Regions from separate parts of the Homo sapiens genome. Here region 2 is linked to region 1. Evidence: fine-mapped expression QTL. Tissue or cell type: whole blood. Region 1 holds a variant in brackets; the other region holds the start of a gene. All regions are shown on one strand. Distances are from middle to middle.

Region 1 (8,000 bases):
TGACAGGAGGACTTGTAGCATTCAGGCAGGCCCCCTTAAATATAACTTAAGGCAGCATTTAGTAAAAAGGAGTAAGGCACTATTTAGAGCAGACAACAGATTACATAGATTTTTTTAGTTTAGTACTTTTCAAACTTTTGATGACGAAAGACCAGATGTTTAATTTCCAGTATATATGTACAGGGTGGACAAGGTGAGCATATTTATCATATGCTCGGCCCAGTTGCTGTGGAAGTGTTTTCTAATTGCCATAATGCTGACACTACTCTGCTGAATGACCACATGTTCAACAGTGTTGTTGATCCTAGAACATTGTTTCTTTATTTTGCTCCCAAGGTTGTTGAGCCTCAGAAAAGTTAAATGATTTGCTCAATATTATACAATTGTTAAAATTTTCTTTTTTAGTTTCAGTAGACAGCAACTCTACTCAGGCAGAATTTGGTGTTTTGTCTGAAGGTGATGTTCATTGCCAGTGTAAAAGTCAGAAAAATATGCCTCTGGCATTTGTAGCTGTGGGGGAATTTTCAGTTTCTGCATTGTGGACTTCTGAAATCTTTTATGTGATCTTATAGTTTTGGAACAATAGAAAAAAAAGATACCATATAAAATAACGAGACAAGAAAAATAAAAAATATTGAGGTAGAAAAAGCATAAACAATTTAAAAACTATTAGTTTCACATAATTAGAGTAATGGGTACATATATGAGCAAAGTATCAAGAGATAAGGCCTAAAAGATTCTCAGAGATAAGATTAATAAGTGGTATTAAGCCATAAAATGGAGTTTGCTTTTTATTGTTAGACAATGGGAAATGGTTTAAAAAGTAATATAGAACAGGTTAGTTTTTAGCAAAGATGATTTCAATGCCTTTTTTTTTTTTTTTTAAGAGACAGGTTCTTGCCTTGTTGCCCAGGTTGGAGTGCAGTGGTGCAATCATAGCTCACTGCAGCCTCAAACTCCTGGGCTCAAGCAATTCTCCTGCCTCAGCCTATCTCTCTCTATATTTCAAAGTAAGATTAATAGAAGGTATACTTCAGTTTTGTAAAGTATACTTTAGCTCTAAACACCATAATCAAATGTCTTTGAATTAAAAGTAGTAGCTTAAAAAAGGCAGAAGAACATAGAAATATGATGCAGTAATTGAGAAGATTATTATTTATTATGTTTTGAAACATCGCTGTCACCAAGTATTTGGTAAAAATGAATGCAGTGATATTGAGGCAGTATATTATGCTGTTGAATATAACCAAATGGCTTGCGTTGGAATTTCAGCTCGATATTCATTATTTTTTCAACCTTGGGCAAATTACTTAGCCTCTTTGGGCCTTGGTTTCTCATCTATTGAATGAAGATAAATAATGCTTTCCTTATAGGACTGTCGTAAAGGTAAATGACTTTCTCTGTATGGACAGATATACAGTGGTCCCTTGGTGTCTGTGGGGGATTAGTTTCAGGACTCCCTCTTCCCCTGCGGATACCAAAATTCATGGATACTCAAATCCCTTATATAAAAATGATATAGCATTTGGATATAACCTACAGACATCCTCCCATATAAATTGTTTCTAGATTACTTACAGTACTTAATACAGTGTAAATGCTATGTAAATAGTTGTTGTAATATATTGTTTAGGGAATAATGATTTTTAAAACTCTGTACCTGTTCAGTACAGACACAGCCATCCATTTTCCCCCAAATATTTTCAATCCCACGAATACTGAACCCACAGATAAGGAGGGGGTGACTGTATACACCTATTTGTTATATAACTTAGAATAATACCCGGTAAATAATAAACATTGACTAAGTACTTCTACTGCTGTTGCTGGTGGTGGTGGCGTTACGATTAGTAGCAGAAGACATTTCATTAAATACATTTTACAAACATGTAAGAATAATGTGACTACAATACCAAAAATTTGCCAGTTACTGTTTGAAAATAGTCACCCACTGGATATCAGATTTCATCTTTTTCTCTAGTTGTCAAGACTAAGGTAATGAATTTATATTTAACTTAATGTTTTCTCTTCTATAGTTCATCAGAGAAGATATGAAATATAAAGATGCTACTAATAAACACAGCCATCTGCACAGAGAAGATAAACATATAACGATTGAGGATTTATGGAAACGATGGAAAACATCAGAAGGTAAGACTGCCTTTGTGATCTGGCCCCCTCCCCTTCTGCACATCTAGCCTGCTTAGTTGTTCTCAACTCACTTATAGTATGCTTTTACCAAAAAAATCAAAATAACATTTCTGTGAGGATATTTATATTTTAGTAAATAATTTTCCCTTCTTGTTTTTGATAGATGATTTTTATCTTTCTGAGAGTCATTAAGCATCAGGCTGTTCTCATATAATTATAGTAGAATAAATAAGATAATGCATGTCTGAGAGCCTAAAGTTGTAAAGCATTATTTCAGCTATTACGTGACATTATTATAAAAGGTTTAGCAAATAAACATATGGAAACACAAAGTTTTCCTTTTAGTTGTGGAGAATAGTTCCTAATGTTTTTAGGAGGCTATTACTGTTAAGCTTTTTCTTAAGTAAATCCTTTATGATGTCTCGTAATAGGTGTATGATAAAATTGGATAATTGGTATTTTATTCCCTTTCTACTGTTAAGTTCTCAAGGTGTATTATGGACAGTAATTGTTTAGTACAGGAAAAGTCTGTGATCTAAAAATCTCAACTTGGTTCCATATACTAGGAAGTTACTAAAATTAAAAAAATTTTACAAGTCCCCTAAACTTACATTTTGTTTTCAGTAACTCAACTAAAATTCCTTCTTTCTAATGCTTCTGTTCTTTCATAAAAGTCAGCAATTATATTGTAAGCATATATTTTTCTCTGAAAAATTAAACGAAATTAAAGGGACAGATTACCAATTAAGAGTGTAAAGAAATAATAAAGTTTACTTGAGTCATTATGATAACATTTAGAAGTGGGAAAATAAATAAAACTGTCCCACCAATGCTCAGTATTTTTCTTAGTGTAGAAGATGGTAGATAGCTTGCTTACATGTGTTTCTGTTGAAATACACTTGGGTTGGGGAAGAAAGAAGAAAACAATTATGCACTTAAAAGAAAAATATATAGA[CT/C]TTTAAAAAAACCTCTCCATTTCTCTTCCCTACACCATTTTAAAATAACATGAGCTCGGATAGGAATAGAAATAAACAAATATCAGTTTCATGAGGAAAAGTGAAAATGGTGGGGAACTCAGCAACAAACTTATTTTATTGACACGACATAGCTCAGCAATCCATAGATACTAAGAAGGGAGGTGGAGATCCATTACAGAGTCTATTGCTATTAGTATTTTTTTAAGGATTAAAATATGTAATACATTGATTGGAACCCACTTGACTGTGTTTGAATGAAGAAAAAAATATTTGACCACTTAGGTCTTGTACTACCTTTGTTCAGCCACCATCGTCTCTTGCCTGGATAATTGTGACAGCCTAATTCATCTCCCTGTGTTTGTGCTCTGCTGTAGTCTCTTCTTCACCTAGCAGAGTACTCTAAAATGTAAATTAGATCTGCTCATTACTCTGTAGTGACTCAGAGTAATAGTCCAAATCTTTACAAAGACCCGTAAGCCTCTACATGTTCTGCCTTCTGTTTCCACCTCTCTCTCATCTCTTACCTCTTCTATTCCATGCATCTCTCTCGCTCACTGTGCTCCATTCATTCTGGACCTGTGGCTATTCAACAAATGCAGGAATGCACACATCCTCATGGCTAACTCCATCACCTCCTTTGTTAAAGTCTTTATCAAGGGTTATGGTCTCAGTGAAACCACTCTGGCCACCCTGTTTAACATTGCTAACCTCCCCTTTTACTCATTTTTTTTTCTGGTACTCTTGATCTTTCTTACTCAGCTTCACACTTTCCTTTTCCCCATCGTGTATCACCTTCTAAGATACTATATAATTGACTTGCTCATTATATATATCTCCCTTTGCCTCACCCCCAAGAATGTAAGTGTTATAGAGCAGGGGAATGTTGTATGTTTTGTTTATTAATGTATCCTAAATAAAGAGGACTCTATTCTTAAACTCCTTTTTGTTTTCCCACCCTAGTGACTTTGGTGAGATCTTTTGTGATCTATGAGAATGTTTGTTTACTTGATTTTTTTTTTTTTTAAGCTAAGGCCTTTTCAAGTTGAATGACGTCTTAAACCTCTTTTTCCCTAGGCTTTCACCTTAATCTGAGATCTAACCATTATGATAATGAGGGATTTCCTCAGTTCAAACAGTTGGCCTAAGTTATCTCCTCTCTGCTTCCTTTTCTCTAAGCCCCAGTTGGCTATATAACCTTACAGAGTCTGGCAGAAGTAGTCTCAGTATTCCTAGTAATGCAGCTGTATGGGATGAAAGAGAGAGGAGTCAAGTGATAATAAACTTTCACTAGAAGCTTTATAATGACCTAATTGATTTTTCTCAACCCATGTCAGACTCTGTTTATTAAAGGGGTCATGTAAGGGTGGGGTATTGTTGCCAGAGCACTGGTTTTTAAAACATTCAGGCTCCAGGAGGAGTCCCAGGGACAGGGCATGTTGAGTGTGCCGGGCTCTGCTTTTATCTGTTATATTTTGTTTCTGTTGAAAATTTCTCTGGAGAAACGAAAAGTAGTTCTTCTGAAAAAGTTTGAAAACTGCTGAAGTAGAGATTAGAATGTACCCCTAACAATAACATGTAATTCAAGGTTGTTTACTTGAATATATACAAAAGTGTGTGTATGTGTGTATATATGTATTTATACAGAAAGTGTGTATGTTTGTGTGTATGTGTGTATGTATATATATGTATATATAAAACACACACACACATACATACACATGCAAATATATGCATTCATTCTTTGCTTATCATTGTTGTGTCTCCCATGCCTAGCACAGTGCATTCACTTTGTATTCAGTAGTAAATATTCACTTTGATATTCAGTAAATAATTGTTGAATGAATGAAAGAGTAATGCCTGATAAGTATTGGATGCTTAGTAATTTAGTTGGTCAAATGTTTTGAGTACAGGCATTTCTGTTATTAGACATTATGTGCATTTCTTAAAAACTTAACGTTTTTTAAAATTTTGGACTTAAAAATGACAGTTTATGGGAAAAATGGGACTGAAGGAGATTACTCAAAACCTGTACAACTTATTAGCCATGGCATTAACAGTATTAATAAAAATACTAGTACAGGCCAGGCGCAGTGGCTCATGCCTGTAATCCAGCACTCTGGGAGGCCTAGGCGAGCAGAGCACCTGAGGTCAGGAGTTCAAGACCAGCCTGGCCAACATGGCAAAACCCTGTCTCTACTAAAAATACAAAAATTAACTAGGCTTGTTGGTGCGCTCCCGTCATCCCAGCTACTAGGGAGGCTTAGGCAGCAGAATCACTTGAACCTGGGAGTGCGCTACTGCACTCCGTCTCAAAAAAAAAAAAAATACTTGTACCGCTAAAAAGAATTTCAAATTCCTAATCAATACATACTATATAGTAGATATAGGAATTTACATTAAAAAATAATGAAGATAACTTTATAGAAGGATGGATGGGGGGTTCTAGTAGAGTTGAGGTTGCTAAAAAATGAAGACAAGGGCAAAGTGCATGAAGATGAGAACCGAGCAACAAGCATTTCCAAGACAGAGGCTCTGGCCAAATTGAGCAAAGATAAAGAAGGAGGGTAAGTAGAAGCTCCTGTTTGTAGCTTGCTGTATTGGCAGTTAGTACACCTTGCATCCATTTGATAATTACTTGGCAATGTGAAATGATACCATGTTTGGAAAAGTCACATGTGAAATGATGTGACTTTTGCGTTGATGTGACCCCTAATTACTAGTGGCACATAAAGTAATTCATGTTACAGCAGCACGTGCAGCAAAATAGACTGTATCTATTAGGTGGTAAACAAGCACTGCATTGGATCCTGGGGATTAATGATGAGTTAAACATGAATCTGGTGTATACAGAGCAAATTGCTGGGTAGGAAAGACAAAGAAAACAAATAATTACACTATAAGGTGATATGTACAATAATAGCAGTAAGTTTAGGGTATGGAGGTAGCTCACTGGAGGGAGTGATTAGCTCACTATTATACACAGAAGGTGGTGTTCGGGTTGACCCAGGAGTTCTAGAAGGAGACAAGAAGTAGAACATAAATGGTAGCTCCCCCATGGCATCTTTTTTTTTTCTTGAAATAGACAAGGTTTTGCTCTGTGACCCAGGCCGGAGTGCAGTGGTGTGATCATACCTCACTGCAGCCTCAAATTCCTGGGCTCAAGTGAGCCACTAGAGTAGTTGAGGCTACGGGCGTATACCACCACGACTGGCTTATTTTTTATTTTTTGTTGGGACGGGATCTTACTATGTTGCCAAGTCTTGTCTCCAGCTCCTGGCCTCAAGCAGTCCTCCTGTCTTGGCTTCCTAAAGTGCTAGGATTACAGGTGGGAGTCACCACACCCAGCCTCCTTCTTTAGTTACCTGAAAATTTGCTAGAAGTGAAAGTGGAGGCGGCATGCTATAGAAAGTATGTAGGCTTTCAAACTATACAGCTTTAAATTCTGGCTCTTCTATTTATGAATAGTGAGGCATTGGACAGATTTTGAAAATTCACTTATAAAATGTAATTCTTGTGTGACATAAATCAGTAATGTAGTGAAAGTACTTGACATAATTTATGGCAACACCTGTTAGGCGCTTAGTAAAGGTTGATTCTCTCATTCAGTAATAATGCGAAATAAACTAAAAAGTTCGGCCATATTCAAAGTTTTGTACTGTTTTTGACTTAGTCTCACAATATTTATTGATAAAATGAACAGACTAAGCTATATATTTACCAGCATTGTGTGCAAACTCTGGACAGTGAAATGTACCCAAGATCTTTCTGGAATGTTGTCAACTGTGGGAAAGTAAAATTGTTTTATGCAGAAGTTGATCCTGACCTCAAATAGAATTTCAGCAATGACTTTAATGCAGTGTGTGTGTGTGTGTGTGTGTGTGTGTGTGTGTGTGTGTGTATGTGTGTCTGTGTCTGTGTGTAGAGAGAATGCTTGGTCAAGTTGCACATGGCAGCTGTCTAATGCAAATGAAAGCCATTTAAAAACTAGTGTTAGATTTCAGATAGATTTTGATAAACTGGATACATTGTGAGAATTACTGAATGTATTTAAATAGTAGCCAGATACCTAATGCAGGAAATTGTACATAGAAAATATTTGTTATATACAAGATTTAGAGACTATAGTAGATAAAAAACTGATTAAGTAAGACACTGTTTTTAAAATGAAAACTCACTGGGTTAGTTATTATAACATGTGACAACCATGAGGTAATCTTTCCATCCTGTTCAGCACAAGTCTTAACCTACCTAAGGTCACTGTTTAATTTTGGGCTTTACAAATTGAATAGACATTTGGAAATTTAAGATAATGTTTATTTATTTAAGGGTTAAAAATTTAAAGCAACTGAAATAGTCTGAGAGAAGAAAGATACAGGCACTTAATAATGGTTATTTTCAAGTGTACCTAAAGGCTAGCCAGAGACTAAATGACCAAGAGTATTTTCTTTTTGTTTAGGACAGCGAAAATATAAGTATTTTATAAAAGGAAATATAAAGAAAAAAATTTCTGGCCATTGATACAAAATTCCTAAAAGTAAGGGAAGTTATAAATATTTTAAAAATATCTAGAACCTTTATATCCATAAGATTTTTCTTCTGGGTATGAAAGTATAAAGGGATTTCTAAATGTTGATAAAATCCACCAGCTCTTTAAAGTGTATGATGTTGGTTGCAATGAGACTAGAATAAAAAAACTGTAAATAGAAAAGTGTGTATTGTTTAGCATTATCAGAAGAGGAACTTAAAACGTAAGCCTTGCAGATCTAATAAGGTAGTGTTATCTTTGTGGCATCCATCAACAAAATATTTATTTGTATATTTACAATATGCATCACACTCATTAGTAGAAAATAAGGAAGTATGAGAGACAAC
Region 2 (10,000 bases), 100 kb before region 1:
TTCTCTGGCAGCTGCCTGGAGCGGCAGGTGGCATGACTGAAAAGTGCGGGCGAGTTTGCATCTCCTGCAGAAACCTTTGACTGATGGGAGCCAAAAGTTCCATTTTTCTCCCTTCTTCTCGCACTGTTCCAAAACAGAGTGGTCTCCACTATGGAGGCATCGTGAGAGACTGAGCAGCCAGCTCAGTGGTGCATCACCTGGATATTTTTCTGCCTCCTTCTGTGCGTGGCTCATGTCTCCCTTCCCCTTACTTCTGCTTCACTGGGGTTGAAGGAATTGTTGAAGGAAATCCTACTCTCTAAGGAACTGTTATATGGGCCTTTGCATCGGGTCCTATTTTCTAGAGAACTTTTGACTGTCACTTTAGGCATATGGCCCTGTAAAGACTTCTGTGTACGTACCTTTGTTGTATGTGCTCTTGTAGATTGTTCGTGTATTCTTTTTTTCTACTTTCCTTTTTTGCACAATTCAACTCAAAACGAGCTCTTGTTTTTCATACCTTAAGGGTTTAAATAATAATAGCTAACTATGCACCAGGCAGCTTTACAATCATTTTTACTTTACAACAACCCTCTATCTAGGTATTAGCATAAGGACCTGGTTTTACTGGAACAAAAATACCGGAGTTCCTCACCTTACGAAGGGTTTTCGTTTCAGATGGGTGTACTTGGGTGTACTTATGGCCATTTTTTTTATACATTCAAACTTAAGGAGTTGAAATTTCCAGTCCCTGGATGGATTTTCCACAAAGAAGAGGGAGGTGGGCAGCCCTTTGAAGCTTTTAAACAGGCCCACTTTTCTTCTCCTTGCTGATATATGTTTCTGTGGCATCTTTTTCTAAAGTAGGTGTTTTGTATACTTTAAGATTGAAAGTAGGTAATTCCTTTTTAGATAATCTCTTCAAGTGCTGTAGGGAACCCCTTGGCAGCTTCCTGCCTCATAATTCACAGACATTATGAATGTTTTTAAAATTAATTTTTAATTGACAAATATTGTGTATATTTATGGAGTACAATGTTTTGAGCTATATGTACATTGTAGAACAATTCAACTGAGCTAACATATCTATTATCTCACTGACTTAACCTTTTTTGTAGTGACAATGTTAAAAATCTATCTTTTTAGCAATTTTGAAATAGACATTAACTGTGGTTATTGTGAAGTACAATAGATCACTCAAACATATTCCTCCAGTCTAACAGTAACCTTATACCCTTTGGTCAGCATCTTCCCTTTCCCCATCCCTCGCCCCATTCACACTTACCAGCCTCTGGTAATCACCTTTATACTGTTTCTATGAGATGAACTTTTTTTTAGATTCCACATATGTGGGGTCATACAATGTTTGTTTTTCTACGCCTGGCTTATTTCACTTAGCCTAATGTCCTCCAGTTCCACCCATGTTGCAGTGAATGAAGAATTTCCTTCTTTTTTAAGGCTCTATAGTATTCCACTGTGTGTATATATACCCTATTTTCCTTATCCATTCATCTGTTGATGGACATTTAGTTTGCTTCCATATCTTGGCTATTGTAAATAATGCTGAAATGAACATGAGAGTGCAGATATCTCATTGACATACTGATTTCCATTCCTTTGGATATATACTCAGAAGTGGGATTGCTGGATCATATGATAATTCTATTCCTAGTTTTTTAGGAACCTCCATACTACTTTCCAAAATGGGTATACTAATTTACATTTCCACTAACAGTATACCAGGGTTTCCTTTTCTCCACATCCTCATCAACACTTATTTGTCTTTTTGATAATAGCCATCATTTTCTCACCATTTTCAATTGTTATGATCTTTACTTTAGCTCCATCACAATTCTAGTCCTCTTTTTGTGGAAAATGTCAACATTCCTGCTGCTTCAGCATCTGTCAGTTATCATGTGATCAATAATATTCATGTAACACCTCAAATTAAGCAGTATAGAGCAAACACATCCTATTTAATAATATAAACGACTCACCCCACACGCCCTCTGATTGCACCGGGCTTTAGCGGGCAAAGTTAACTCGCTTCTGTTGAGCGGCTTTTAAAAAACTATGTTAGTTAAATCTAGAGTTTTTAACTCCCTATCCTGGATGCAAGACACTTAAAAAGACTTCCTTCCTCTGCTCCCAGAGAAAGCAGCAATAAAATTTTCCACCTTCACTACACCACTTGAGGACTATCTCATGTTTTATTGGGTTTAGGGAGGAAGGGTCTTGCTAATGAGTTACTTCCACGGTGTCACTTCTATTCCTAGTGCTTTATTAAACAATTTGAGGACCCCATTTTTATGCTAGGGCTTCATTGATCGAATGGAGCCATCACATTGTCTATATCACTTTAGAGGTGTTTCCAAAGTTCTCAGCACCTCGAGTCCCTTGTTAGCGTTTGTCGAGAGTCAGCGGGAAAACTCGATACCTAACAGCGTTTCCACCGAAGGCAGCTCTCTGAGGGGCTTCACCATCAAGAGCAAGCGAACCAGGCTGGACCACCCTGCTGGGTCTGTCCCGACATTCCAGGGCCACGCAGGGAAGTCAAAGACGGGAAGGAGAAGATCAGTGGGAGGGCGAGGCGCCGGAATTCCCCACTTCTATACCTCCACCCCTACTACCGCCCCACGTCCACCACCCTCCCCACTGACAGCCCGCCGCGCCCGCCCACGCGGTGACGCCATCTCGCGGCTGCCGGGCGCCCCGCCCACAGAGTGGGAGCCGGAAGCCGGGCGGGCAGCGGCGCGCGGCGTCCCGGAACCCAGCAGCTTGAGAACTCGCGCACCTGGGGGAAGCCGGCAGGAGGCAGCGGGCATGCGCGGGGCTGCGGTGGCGCAGGCGCCCTGCCGCGCCCGCCAGTCGGGAACCGGTTCTCCGAGTCCGAGCTGGCGGCGCGCTGTGGGCTGTGCGGGAGCGAGGGGAGAAGAGGGAGATAGGGAGCCCGACATTTGGGAAGGGCAGGCTTGCCTCTGGGATGGGGAGGAGCCGGTGCACGGATCCTGCTGTGCCTCTGTGCAGGGCGCGCCCAGTAGTTTGGGATTTGCAAGAAAATGCAATCAAACAACATGGGCAAAGTGCGATGCGTTTATCCTAAGCCAAGAACACGCTTAGAATGCACGCCCAGAGCCAGTTCTCCCCAAGGGATGGCAACGCACCTGTGTGCCGGGCTCCGCGCAAGGGCTTTCCCTGTTTATTCTCCCGCCGCCGCTAACAACCTTGTGGGGCGGGCATGGTTGGATCCCCAATTTAAAAGTGGGGAAACTGAGGACAGATTAACCTGTCTGCACGTAACACAGCTGAAAAGTGGTGGAATTGCTATTTCTTTCAGGTTTGCCTGATTCTAGAGCTCAATGCTGCCCATCAGGTGTTTGAAGTCATGATTTGGTGAAAATGGGACAGTGAAGACGTTCTGAAAAAAAAAAAAGGCATATGATGAGGTTTGGACATTGAGAGGTATAGGCTGGCTGTAGGAGTCGGGTAAGTGCCAAGGAAAAGGGCCTCAGGGTAGCTTTTGAATGGGATTTGGCGACAGGGAAGGAGAGAAAGCTTTGGGGTGGTGAGAACAAGGGAAGGGAAAGGGAAAACAAAAGCGTGGAGGTGGGAAAGGAAACCTGGGGAGAAAGGTAAGCGATTGCCTCATTTGGAGTCTTGTGTTTATGTTTGGCTTGCAAATAGAAGCATATATAATTCTAGGGTTGGGCTTTTCTTGCCAAGGAATGGATTTTCTCCTTTCTGTTCTTAGGTTTATGCTGTGATGCACAGTGACACGTACCTCTCTCTGTTCAGCAAGGTTCATTCCGGCTATTCATTTAACAGCTGGAAAGTTCTATATCTGTGGCAAAGATGATCTGCGGTGGAGGGTTTATTCCTGGCCCCTGGCCTTCCTGGCCTTGGTCTTTTGAGTGCTTGCCGGATCCCTAGTTCCTTTCCGGTTCCAGTAGTGAGAGGAATAAACACTTAAAACTCCAGTCCAATACACTCTCAATGTCAATACCCTCCCTATCTTTAAAAGAAGAAAAAAAAATACTAAATCATCTTTGTTTAAAGAATCCTGGCCCCTGTGATTTGTTAATTTGTTCGTGGTTTTATACTGTTACTACTGTAACAGTTTGCACTACACCATTTAGCAACTGATTACTACTTTGTATTAGCCTCTAATTGTTTAATGGGTGTACATTTTATCTCCTTAAAAAGATTGTAAGATGCCTTAGTCATGGGACTGTGCTGTTTATCTCATAGCCCTGACTGCTGACTTAATTGCCTTTTTCAAGTGTCTCTCTTGCCTAACCCTCACCACTCAGTACTCTGCCTGGCACATACTAGGTACTCAGTAAACATTTAATAAATGAAATGCCTCCTGGAGAGCAGGAACAAGCTTGTTATTTATATTGTTCTGGTCCCCTAGCAGAATTATCTTCTCTGGTGGGCACTCAGCACTCTGGTGTGACTTCATCGCTGTGCCTTTCAGCAGGGGAAATATAATCTCCCGGTTGCCCTATAAAGAATTGCCACCTGAACACTATGCCCACAAGAAGTCTGCTGAGAAATAACTGTTGATAGATTGACTTAGCCTCAAAGACATCCTTGATTCTTTTCTAAAGTGTGCATCTGCCCTTCCACAATAAACGATATTTGTGGTTATCTTGGCCAGGCTACCTAAGAAATACTTTAGGAGAATGTAATTTGAGTATCTTCTTGGCTTGAGAAAGCAAGCAAACAAACCAATAAGCAGAATGAAACCAACAAAACCCAATAGCAAAAGGATCTTCGTGTTTAATAACCCTATCTGCAAATTTTAAACAATTTTGTGCCCCTGGGAGAAAGAATGCCTCCTTGCGTGTGAATTTCCAGGGCTTTTAATTTATAGTGACAGTACATTCAACACTTCCTTTTAAATTTGAAGGGAGGTGGCCTTAAAAATATGCTGGCAACTAGTTTGGATGAGAAAGATTCCGGTTCTTTATTTATTCAAACCAATTAGACCAGGTCTGAACAGGATTTACAACAGAGAGCAGATCTTGGGTGCACAAGAGCTTTGCTTCATTCCAGGTTGGCGAAAACAAGTCAAGTCTACATCATTGTTCTGTCAGCCGGTTCAGGATACAGCACAGAGTCGATGGGATGGGGGTGGGAAGGTGATGAGTTCAGGTAAATGTACCTAGGAGAGTCAGAGGCTAAAGTAAATTCTCTTAAATAGGCCTTTTCAGTGGCTGCTAAATCTCGCTCATTTCCCATGAATTAGCTGTGGGATATTGGGGACAACTTACTTCACATTTCTAGGTCTTAGTCTCTTCATTCGTAAAAGGGGGTAACGATAATTTTGGAGTTATAGCATGTAAATGTGTAAAACGGTTAGAGCAATGCCTGGTACACTCACACATAGCACGCGCTTTGTGAAATGTTTGGCAAGTAAATAAAACGCTAAGCTATGCTAACCGCGTCTAAACAGCCAGCCACTTGTAAGCCCCACCTATATTGAAATTACGGGGACGCTGCTGTTTTCCGATTGCAAGATTTTCCTGATCCATGCAATTACTTTCGCTGCCCTCTACGAGGCTGAAACTCGCCCTCAGGATGTGGGACGTCTGGACTCTTCTCTCCGTCCCCTTGTAGCCCCCCACTCCCCCTCGCGGTGGTACCGTGAATGAGGGAGAGGTACACGTCCCCCTTCTTCCCCGCCTCCTATCTTCGCGGCTCGCTAAAGCGTTATCAGCCGCCCCACGGTACTACCGTCCGTCTAGGAACGCCTCCGGGGCGGGGCTGGGATGCCGCGCACGCGCAGTACAGCAGCGCCGCGCCTGCGCCGTGGAGAGCCTGAGGGAGGCGGGGGATTGGTATGCGAGCGAATGTGCGAGGGGAGGGAGGCGTCCCGGCGGAGCGTGGTACTACGACCAGCGCGGGCCGGAGGGGGCGGGGGGATGCGCCGCGGCGGCGGCGGCGCGGGAGCTGGGGTTGGTGTTTGGCGGCGCCAGAGCAGCGGATCCCGGTCTCGCCGCAGCAGCAGCGCGGGTGTCGTGCACCGCCTGAAGACGCCGTACCTTTCTACCCCCCACCTTTTTTTTTTTTTTTTTTAAATAACCGGAACCAATGAACGCAGCCGGGATCAGAGCTCCGGAGGCCGCCGGTGCCGATGGGACCAGGCTGGCGCCCGGCGGGAGCCCGTGTCTGAGGCGGCGGGGGCGGCCGGAGGAGTCGCCGGCGGCGGTGGTGGCGCCTCGCGGAGCCGGCGAGCTGCAGGCGGCCGGGGCGCCGCTGCGCTTTCACCCGGCTTCTCCTCGGCGCCTTCATCCCGCCTCGACTCCTGGCCCAGCGTGGGGCTGGCTGCTGCGGCGGCGGCGCTGGGCTGCGTTGCTGGTGCTCGGGCTGCTGGTAGCCGGAGCGGCGGACGGATGCGAGCTTGTGCCCCGGCACCTCCGCGGGCGGCGGGCGACTGGCTCTGCCGCAACTGCCGCCTCCTCTCCCGCCGCGGCGGCCGGCGATAGCCCGGCGCTCATGACAGGTGAGGGGCCGGGGGGCGGCGGGCGGGGCTCGGCCGGCAGCGATGGGACCCCCAACCCGTGCAGAGGTCAGCATCTCCGCCGGACGTCCGCTATTCCGCGGCTCCGGCCAGGGCGCGATGCGGAGCCCTGCCTGCTGCTTCGTCGCGGTCCCCTGCACTCCGGACGTCTTTCCTTTTCACCCCGACACCCCGCCCTCGCCGAGCCTCTCGACGGCACTGATTCCCCTCCCTTCAGTCGGGCTCTCCGATCTTCCAAGCTGAGCAATGCGGTGGTTTCTCTTTCGTGCTGCAGAAGTGCCAGCAGGGTCTGCAGGGGACTGGGCTGATTTTTTTTTTTTTTTTTTTTTTGAGGCTGCTAGAAAAAGTCAGCAGCAGCATTGCGGTATTGAGTCTACCTCTGGTGCTGCTTTTGCAAAGGCAGCTGGCAGCGAGTCTCACCGGTTCAAAGCTCCGCTTGAGCACAGCGTCCCAGGGGAGCCTGCTAAAGGGGATTCTTTGAGAGCCATAATACCTAGTGATATTAGTGGTTCCGTGTTAGTATGCAGAAATGCCTAAGTTTACAGTGCATTTTTTGCGGGGTGGAAGGAGGCCGTTTTAAGTGGTGATGGAAAGTGTTTGGTGGTGGGAGCATCACTGGGTGACAAAGGGTGTAGAAACCTCAGCAGGTAACCAGAAATTATACCTAAAATTTGCAAAGTGCAGCATACTCGGGGCTTGCAGCTGGCAGCACAGTTCTGATAGACTGCACTAGCACCTTTTTTTTAATATATAGAACGATCTCATAATTGAAAACTTGGAAACGTGTTTTGTAAGGTTAAGTGCAGAATTGTATCCTTTTTAAAGCCTTCCGGTGTTATGTACAACTGATCAGTTGTGGTTTAAGTAAAAGTTATTATATAAGGACCCTGAAATGATTTCTTTGGGAAAAGTAATGGAGCTAAAATAATGGTTTTTTTTTTTTTTTTTAGTATTTCACTTATTTTTAAAGTAGATCTGTAGATTTCCTACAATAATTGTAAGACTAAAAAGTTTAAAGTGGCAGAAGATGACCCGTGATTAATTTAACCAAAATGATAGTCCTGCGGGCGTCTGGAAGTTACTAACAGCTTCTCTGACAAGTGCTCAGGAACTGTATTCTTTAAAGCCAAGCAGTTTCTCTGATTTCTATGATAGGATATTTACTATTCTAGAGAGAAGAAGGATGTTGGTAAACTTTAAAAGCTTTGGAGGATGTAGAGTATAGAACATAATGGTCAGCATGTTTAACTTTACCCTGAAGCATATCAAGCCCTATTAAATGGAACTTGATACATCAAACCTACCAATTGGGTAACTGGGATAAAGTGATTATAGAATAATCAGTATTAGGAGCATAGTACAGTTTGAGTGAGAAGATAGGTCAGACAGCTTTATGCTTGAATAGTATTTATTCTCCAAATAAAAATGTGGCAAGTAACAGTATAGTGAAGAATAGTGATTATTAGGAAAGTTGATAAATAAGACTATAATTTGAAGATTTAATGCCTCATGCAGGAAGGGAAGGAGCAGGAATATTTAGGCTTCTAGAAGGTATAAGTGGTTCTAGGTTTCTCGAGCAGAAAAATGTGGTTAATACATAATTGGCTAATGCTCTGTGAAAAAGTAATTGGTAAAAAGGCAAGCAATTCAGAAAATTTAGTATTTATTGACTGCTAATAAGTATATTTTATACTGTGTAGATCACATCAAGAAAATTGGTCAGATGGAATTTTAATAAGCCATTTACAATCCCTTTTAAGACTTAAATTTCTCTATACTTATTTAAGGCATGGGGGAAAAAGGTGATTCTTATTGGAAAAAAATCCGATGTATCACACAAAATGAGTTTGTGCCATAGGGCTTTAAAATAAGTTTGCTAGAAGAATACCCTGGAATTATTTCTAACGTTCTTTTACTTTCCTTTTGTCAGAATATTGATTTTTAACAAGTTAAACGTTTCCACTTAAAGTTTAAATCATAAAACTACACAATATACAAATTAAATTGTTATTTTAATAAGTTTATGTAAATACAGTCAATAGCACCCATATCTTGGTAAAGGTAAACTGAAAATCTATGATGAAGTTAGAAAATATTGAAAATTTCTTTGAACTATATGGCCTCTATAGGGCTCTTTCCCATTCTTAAGAGTGTATGAATAGTGCTTTCTTTTATGGTTCTATTTGTAAATGTTATGCAAAGCCTAGAACCTAATTTATTAGCATTAGTGTACACTTCAGGAAGTAAAACCGTAGACTGAATTTACAAAATACTGTGGTGTGGTATCATATTGTAGGCAGCGTTAATGGATAGAGATGGAGTAGAGCATCAGTAATAAGAGAACTAAACGTCACGTGAATTTTGAAAATTGAAAATTTTTGAAAGCATTCTGAGAGAAGAATTGGTCTCTTTGTCTCCTGATTAAAGTTGTGATTTAGCTGTGAGTATTCTCAATAGCTCTGCAAAATGACAGCCAAAATCACTTTTCTGTTTTCTTCTCGAGATTGGCATTTTTAATACTTACCTTTAGAAGCTCCCTAAGAGTTAGCCTTTGACTAATAAAATGTATAAAACATTCTTTTTCACTGCAGCTTGCCTCTCAAGTGTTTTACTTTAGGGATTTAGTGTACTTTAAGAGTAAATTGCCTTTAAATTATCCTGTGTTTATTTGCTCAAATAAACTGTTATTGCTCAAAACTATACAAATCATCCAAATAAACAGACCCATTGTCATAATGAATACAGGTTTATATTTTCTTTTCCTTTTTAAATATTACCTTTTCAGAATTCAGTGTGCAAATGTTTTTGGTGAGACAGAACCAATATTCATAACATTATATAGTAAGGGTTTTAAATTACATATACAGCGCTTATATATTTAGGGCACTTACTTTGAAAGTGATTGAAATTTAAAGCAAGTTAGGGATAGGTGACTGAGAGCTTGGTGATTGTATTCTAAAGCAGTGCTTTAATAACTCAAAACAATAGTTTTTTTTTTCCTTCTTTGTCTAACAGATTTAGAGTTGATGAATTGATCCTGGTAGGGAGTGACCGATCTCATCCAGATAGGGTCCCTGAGAAATAGCTTATGAAAGGGAAACAAACAAACAAAAAAATGCCGAATAATTGAAACATTACATTATTTCTTACGGAATTGTTTCAGAATTTTTGGGAACAAATTTTAACTGAAAATATTTGCCTCTATCCTTTTAAAGAATGAATTAAAGTAACATTCTTTAGTGCCTATGTGAAGGTTTTATCTTAACTGTAATACCATTTCACTGATTTGGCATGTTATTAGAAATAACATATATAAAAACATGTTTCTTGGAAGTATTAAAATCTCAATTAAGATTTAATATATTCTTAGTTCAACATATAATACCACATATAATAGCATTTAGAATGGCCACTTTACCCAGTACTGTTACACACATCTGTGTTGTGGGGCTTTCATTAATTTAGATGGAAATACCTCAAATTAGCATGATTGTC

What was found. PIP is the estimated chance that this variant, and not a neighbour inherited with it, causes the effect.
Region 2: STIM2 starts here. The variant in region 1 is fine-mapped to the expression of STIM2 in whole blood (INTERVAL, PIP 0.97).

Annotation. Positions count from the first base shown.
Region 1 is chr4:26,955,576-26,963,575 of GRCh38, forward strand. STIM2 (stromal interaction molecule 2) reads left to right here. Exons shown (of 12, transcript NM_020860.4): 3 at 2,037-2,151. Among named protein-coding and RNA genes, the nearest start is that of STIM2, 99 kb to the left of the region's middle. The variant CT/C (reference allele first, on the strand shown) is at 3,107.
Region 2 is chr4:26,854,883-26,864,882 of GRCh38, forward strand. It overlaps STIM2 (stromal interaction molecule 2), which reads left to right and starts at 5,959. Exons shown (of 12, transcript NM_020860.4): 1 at 5,959-6,487. The coding sequence starts at 6,337. It overlaps STIM2-AS1 (STIM2 antisense RNA 1), which reads right to left and starts at 5,717. Exons shown (of 2, transcript NR_134674.1): 1 at 5,628-5,717; 2 at 4,742-5,146. It also overlaps a transcript of TBC1D19 not described here. RefSeq lists enhancers at 2,336-2,435, 5,516-5,615 and silencers at 2,556-2,845, 2,866-2,915, 5,706-6,075, 6,086-6,655.